Linked DNA regions of Homo sapiens. The protein of the gene in region 2 interacts with the protein of the main gene of each other region in a pairwise test. Each region holds a gene or a part of one and is shown on either strand. Other genes may lie near its edges.

Region 1 (2,357 bases), on a different chromosome or scaffold from region 2:
GGCCCGGAGCGGCCTCGCCTTCCCCGGGGCTCAGGGCTGCAGGCAGAGAGGCTGCGCGCGGGGCTGCCCCCTTGTGGCCGGATTGGGAACAGCAGGCCTGCGCGGGAAGCGGCTGAGGATCCCGGCTCGGCGGAGACCGTGATGGCAACTGGTGGCTAGGGCTTAGGCGAGGCCGGGCTCCTGTCAAGAGCTTCACGGGGACCGCCCATTTCTTCCAGGAGGGGAAAAGCCCGGCCCACTCCCTCCGTCTTAGTGGCTGCCTCAGGGCTCCTTGTCCTCCATTAGGCCTCCCAGGGCACTATCCACCTGCTAGTGACTGTCCAGCTCTGGGCTTCCCCTCCCCAGGGAAGGGTGCCCACCCCCCAAGGCATGGTGTGCGGAGGAGGCACTGGGAGGGGGCAGAGGGTGGTGCCCTCCCCAGATCCCAGATGTGGTGCTGAGGGGACCCCCCTCCGAAGCTTCCGTCTCCCAAACAGTGGGTGGTCCGTTTCATCCATACTCTGCCTGGCTCAGCATCAGGAACCCCTAAGGTAGAAGCAGGAAGTACGGGATGCCTGGGCCAGGCTTGGACCAAGAGTGTCCATGTCCCTACAGTCTGTGGGAGTCCGGGGTGTTGGGAGGGGATGGGAACAGAGGTGTGCTGGAGCTGGCTCACACCCGCCAGGGAGAGCCGACTGCATACACTTCTTTCCAACTCCACATTCAGTGATGCCAAGTTGAAGTTGGCCATGGAGGACTCACACCATGGAAATGGACAGAAGCTAAAATCAGAGCTTTTGTTTTCTCCCCAGAGAGTCAGTTATTAAATTGATTAGCCATAGTCAGCCTGTGTGGGCAGGAAAACTGAGTCCCAGAGTGGGGCAGGGATTGCTGAGGGTCACACAGCAAGCTAGTACAGGGCTGGGGCCAGAACTCAAGCCTCCTGTCTCCCAGGCCTGGGCTCTGCTTATTATAGATGCACCATCTTGAAAGCCAGGAGTGTGGCTCAGGACTGGTCTGCTCTGGGTGTCAGAGGAGTGAGTCTGCATAGCTGCTCACAGCTCTGGATGTGCCTGGCTCACTAGTCCAACTCTCACCCTTTTTTACACACCCAGTCCTGCTCTGTCCCAGGCCCTGGGCTTGGCGCCCCTGAGGCATGTGAACCATGGGCTGTGCCCTCCCAGAGGTGACAGCTTCATATGCAGAGGATGATAGGATGTGATATGCACTGTAAAAGGGGAGGCCGCAGGAAGCCCAGAGGAGGGCACCCCACCCAGCCTGTGTGAAACGGTGTGTGTGTGTATCAGGGAAGGCTTCTCAGAGGAGGGGCTGTTGGAGAAACTGAGTCGTCTTAAAGGATGGGCAGTGACAGCCAGTGAAGAAGGGGAGATTGACCAGTGAGGGCAGCGGTTGAGCAGCCAGTGAACTGGGCTGGGCATGTTTGGGGAACTGGGGGCAGCTGGATTTGATGCAGCCTGGGGGTGGGTGGGGTGATGGAGTTGGGGAGGGGCGGGACTGGTTTGAATACTGAGTCTGTATAGAGAGAGGTATGGGGAGGGGTGGGCCACTGGGTTGGTGGGGGTTACGCAGACCCTTGGCAGCTGCTGCATTTGTCCAGGGACTAAGGAGCAAGGCTGTAGATGAGCCTGTGGGCTCCTTAAAGCAGGGACTGGGATGACAAGTCCCCATCTCCAGCCCCTGCAGGGTGCTGGGTCCTAGGAGGGGCTAAGGAATGATGGGTGTGTCTCATTCCTCCTGCACCCTTCCTGCTTGCCCAGGGAGAACACCAATGCCTGCTGATATGTTTCTAGACGCACCCAAGTCCTGGACACACACTGGCAGCAGGGGCTGGGGGCCCTTCCTCTGGTGTGGGGAGTCTCACTGCTCCCCTAAGGCAGGGCTGGGCGGCTGGAGCAGCCAGGTGATGTCACGGCTCCTTAGCCAGCAGGCAGCAGGGATGGTGTCTGGGACATGGCCCCACCGGGCCCCTCCCGCTCTCAGGCCTCACCTGTACGGAGGAGCGGGAGGCCCGGGCCTTGTTGAGAGTACGCCGGCGCTCCCAGCGGTGGATGGAGTCCTGCACCTCCACACTCAGCTGCCGGGTCACCGTGATCTTGTCGTAGCTCTTGATGTGCTCCAGGGCCCCGTAGGTGGTGGTCAGATAGTAGGAACCTGCGTGGACAAGGGTGTGGAATCTGAGCCAGGACCGCCTCCGCCCACCAGAGGCAAGGAGCTTGGCCTGCCCCACCCACCTCCTCCAAGCCCCGCCCACCACCTCTGCTTGAGGCACATCTGCAAACACCTGCTTCAACAGCTGAGCTCAACCCCACGCCCACCCTCCAGCCTCAGAAAGTTTCCTAGAGTCCAGCCCTGAGCTG
Region 2 (4,459 bases):
GCAGGGCCCCAAAGCTCTGGGGCTGTCACAGTTTCCATTCCGGGCTGACGCTGCCTGCAGCCTCTCTCCACGGTGACCTCCAGAACAGAAAAGAGGCAGCCAGTCGTGCACCTGGGAAGCTGCTGCCCCCCAGCCACTGCCCAGGTCTCAGAGGAGACCCCCACCAGACTGGGCCTCAGCCCCTCCTGTTCCTCACAGGGGCTACCAGCCAACACCAGCCATGGCCAAGTACGTCAAGATCCTGTATGACTTCACAGCCCGAAATGCCAACGAGCTATCGGTGCTCAAGGATGAGGTCCTAGAGGTGAGGGGCTGGAGGACGGGGTCCAAGAGGGGGAAACAGGGCAGGGCTTCAAGGGAGGGGCTACCAGGGGAGGTGGGGAGCGGTCTAGGGCCAGGCTGGGTGATGCCAGGACGGGGCACAGCTGCTGGCCCCTTTCTCCAGGGTCCCCGCCCTTGGACTCTGATCAGGATCCCCAGCCTGTTGGAGGGGCCTTCCCATCTTGGGGCTCCCCAAAGGCATGCAGAGACCCCTGTGCCAGGCTGGGGGGAGCATCTGCACCACGTGGACTCAGCGGGGGCCTGTCATTCACACCCACCCAGGAGCCCCCACATCTGCACTGGCCGCATCTGCCAGCCGGAATCCAGGCCACCCACTGGGGGACAGAAAGTGGAGCAGGCTAGGGGGGAGTGGGCCACATCCACAGCCTGGCTCGGCGGCTCACGCCTGTAACCGCAGCACTGGGAGGCCAAGGCGGGAGGATCCCTTTAGCCCACGAGTTCGAGACAAGCCTGGGCAACACCTCAAAACCCCATCTCTACAAAAAACATAAAAATTATCTGGATGTGGTGGTGTGTGCCTGTGGTCCCAGCTACTCTGGAGGCTGAGGTGGGGGGATCGCCTGAACCCAGGAGGTCGAGGCTGCAGTGGGCAGTGATTGCACCACTGCATTCCAGCCTGGGCGGCAGAGTGAGACCCTGTCTCCGAGAAAAAAAGGGTCCCCCAGACTCCTTGAGGCAGGGTGGGGGAGGAGCAGCCCAGCGAGGGATGGAGGGGTGGAAACAGGGGTGCGGAGAGAATGGAGCGAAGCGGGGCTCCGGGAGACCCTAGGGCGCTCCCGACCTCTGTAAAGCGGCGCCAGCGGGTGGTCCCAGCCCCGCAGAGCCTGGGTGTGGGGAGGGGCTGACGGCGCGCCCCGCAGGTGCTGGAGGACGGCCGGCAGTGGTGGAAGCTGCGCAGCCGCAGCGGCCAGGCGGGGTACGTGCCCTGCAACATCCTAGGCGAGGCGCGACCGGAGGACGCCGGCGCCCCGTTCGAGCAGGTGAGCCCGCGGGGGTCCCTGGGGTCGCAGCCCCCAGCTTCCTGGAGCAGCCCCGCCTGCGCCTAGCCCCGCCCCAAGGCCAGCCCCGCGGCTGGAGAGACTGGGGCAGGTGCAGGGCTCCCTGGGCAGAAGGAAAGGGCTGGTCCGCAGGCCGGGGCTGTAGGGGGATTGGCGGGGTGGGGAGGTCCCGGGCAGGTGCTGGGAGGCGGGGGCGGGGCGTGGGGAGCCTAATCGCCCCCCGCCCCCGCAGGCCGGTCAGAAGTACTGGGGCCCCGCCAGCCCGACCCACAAGCTACCCCCAAGCTTCCCGGGGAACAAAGACGGTGAGAGCTGCTGCTTCGAGGCGGGGGTCCCGGGCCCAGGGCCACCTGGGGGAGGAAGTGTGGGGGGGGTCCCTGGGCCGGGGGCGGGGGCAGGGGCAAGGCAGCGGCGGGCCTGAGTCGCGCGCCCCCTCAGAGCTCATGCAGCACATGGACGAGGTCAACGACGAGCTCATCCGGAAAATCAGCAACATCAGGGCGCAGCCACAGAGGCACTTCCGCGTGGAGCGCAGCCAGCCCGTGAGCCAGCCGCTCACCTACGAGTCGGGTCCGGACGAGGTCCGCGCCTGGCTGGAAGCCAAGGCCTTCAGCCCGCGGTGAGCGGGGGCGGGGGATGAGCTGGGGCCCGGGCGAGGGGTGGGAGGTGCGGCCGAAGGTGCGCAGCTGTCGGGGCGGGCGCCAGGCAGCCTCGCTCACAGCGCGGCCCTGACGCCCAACTGCCCGCCCCCAGGATCGTGGAGAACCTGGGCATCCTGACCGGGCCGCAGCTCTTCTCCCTCAACAAGGAGGAGCTGAAGAAAGTGTGCGGCGAGGAGGGCGTCCGCGTGTACAGCCAGCTCACCATGCAGAAGGCCTTCCTGGAGGTGAGCCCGCCTGCGCTCCGGCGCCACGCCCCTCCTGCCCCTGCGCCCTCCTCTCCCCCGCCCGTTCCTGGGGTCGCAGAGCAAGGGGGAGGCCGGCACCCAGACACGTGGGACCCCCGGCTGAGGATGCCCCCATTTCTCCTCCCTAGAAGCAGCAAAGTGGGTCGGAGCTGGAAGAACTCATGAACAAGTTTCATTCCATGAATCAGAGGAGGGGGGAGGACAGCTAGGCCCAGCTGCCTTGGGCTGGGGCCTGCGGAGGGGAAGCCCACCCACAATGCATGGAGTATTATTTTTATATGTGTATGTATTTTGTATCAAGGACACGGAGGGGGTGTGGTGCTGGCTAGAGGTCCCTGCCCCTGTCTGGAGGCACAACGCCCATCCTTAGGCCAAACAGTACCCAAGGCCTCAGCCCACACCAAGACTAATCTCAGCCAAACCTGCTGCTTGGTGGTGCCAGCCCCTTGTCCACCTTCTCTTGAGGCCACAGAACTCCCTGGGGCTGGGGCCTCTTTCTCTGGCCTCCCCTGTGCACCTGGGGGGTCCTGGCCCCTGTGATGCTCCCCCATCCCCACCCACTTCTACATCCATCCACACCCCAGGGTGAGCTGGAGCTCCAGGCTGGCCAGGCTGAACCTCGCACACACGCAGAGTTCTGCTCCCTGAGGGGGGCCCGGGAGGGGCTCCAGCAGGAGGCCGTGGGTGCCATTCGGGGGAAAGTGGGGGAACGACACACACTTCACCTGCAAGGGCCGACAACGCAGGGGACACCGTGCCGGCTTCAGACACTCCCAGCGCCCACTCTTACAGGCCCAGGACTGGAGCTTTCTCTGGCCAAGTTTCAGGCCAATGATCCCCGCATGGTGTTGGGGGTGCTGGTGTGTCTTGGTGCCTGGACTTGAGTCTCACCCTACAGATGAGAGGTGGCTGAGGCACCAGGGCTAAGCAATTAAACCAGTTAAGTCTCCCAGGAGCCGTGTGTCTCAGTTCTCTGGGAGTCGGAGTGGGTCCTGGAGCCCCCGGAAACTGCACCTTTTCTAAGCAGTGCCGGGCAGAGGGCTGGCCGTCCGCCAGGCTGCTCTGCCCCTGAGCCCAGAGGGGACCCTGCCCACTTCTCTTCCTGTGGCCCTCCCAGGCCCAGCGACCAGAAGGCCCAAAGCGTGTCATCCAAGCCCGGCTTTCGCTGGGCACAACCCTAGTGGGAGCGGTGGGGACAGAGCCAGCTCGGCCAGACGGTCGGCAGGCCCCAGGAGGGCCATGAGTCAGAGGGCAAGGCTGAAACTGGATTTGGAGATCTTAGCCCAGGCTGACGGAGGCTCCCAAGAAGGGGGAGCAGGCCACACTCAGCACCCTGCGTGGGAGGGGCACCTGACCGCCAGATGGGCGGTCCACCTGAGCCGCACCCTTGGAGGGGCCTTTGGTGCCCTCTGCCGGCCGCTCCATGTGCTGCCGTGAGTGGCCGCCAGGGGTGCCCTCGCCCTGGATTGGTGGCAGGGGGCAACCCACAACCATGTGTCCCCATAGCAGCCGTGAACCCAACCCTGGTGCGGAGCATCCGGGGACACAGTCCTGGGGTCTTGGCCTGGGCAGGGGCGACTGTGGGGCTGGGCTGGGGGGGGCGTGTCCCTTGCCTGGTCCACCACCCAGCCAGGCCTGGACACCAGGCCACAGAAGCCCTGACTCACAGCTCAGGCCACACTAGGCCAAGTCTTAACCACAGTGTCTGGTCGGGGCAGCAGGGATTGTCTGGTGCCCTCTGAGCCACGACCCGGGCTTGATGGCCACCACCACTCCTCCAGGCCCCCGGAAGAGGCCCCCCCACCCTGTCAGATGGACCCTGCAGTGAGAGAGACAGGTCCAAGAGGAAAAGGGGAGGGATGGGGGCACCGGCCCTCCTCCCTGCAACCTGCAGCTCCCGCTGCCTGCTGAGCCACCACCTCAGGACGGGGATAGGCACCGGGGCTATATCTGCTCCAAAAGGGGCCTCTGTGGGCCCCAGGATGCCAGTCCTTGGAAGTGAGGGAGGCTGCCCACTCCCCAACCACTCCCAGCAACAGGACCCTTCCTCCACCAGGATGGTCTGGGCTTCATATGCAGCCTCCAGGCTGGGCTGCTCAGCTTCTGAGGGCCCCAGATCTACACCTGCTTCTTCAGCCTTCTCCCTGTCCACCTCCCCCAGCCCCATTTAGAGCCCCCTACCTGCTGTGCCCCACTCTGCCACCTGCACAGC

What was found.
Region 1: the proteins of EPS8L2 (region 2) and RIN3 interact in a two-hybrid assay, tested with the Homo sapiens proteins (one large-scale study listed by BioGRID and IntAct).

The regions. Positions count from the first base shown.
Region 1 is NC_000014.9:92,684,781-92,687,137, reverse strand, and holds part of RIN3 (ras and Rab interactor 3), read right to left. Parts: intron 2,152-2,357; coding exon 1,988-2,151; intron 1-1,987. UniProt on the Homo sapiens protein: Ras effector protein that functions as a guanine nucleotide exchange (GEF) for RAB5B and RAB31, by exchanging bound GDP for free GTP. Required for normal RAB31 function.
Region 2 is NC_000011.10:724,526-728,984, forward strand, and holds the end of EPS8L2 (epidermal growth factor receptor kinase substrate 8-like protein 2), read left to right. Parts: intron 1-198; coding exon 199-304; intron 305-1,202; coding exon 1,203-1,322; intron 1,323-1,572; coding exon 1,573-1,645; intron 1,646-1,778; coding exon 1,779-1,959; intron 1,960-2,093; coding exon 2,094-2,226; intron 2,227-2,375; coding exon 2,376-2,456; 3' UTR 2,457-3,202; downstream 3,203-4,459. UniProt on the Homo sapiens protein: Stimulates guanine exchange activity of SOS1. May play a role in membrane ruffling and remodeling of the actin cytoskeleton. In the cochlea, is required for stereocilia maintenance in adult hair cells.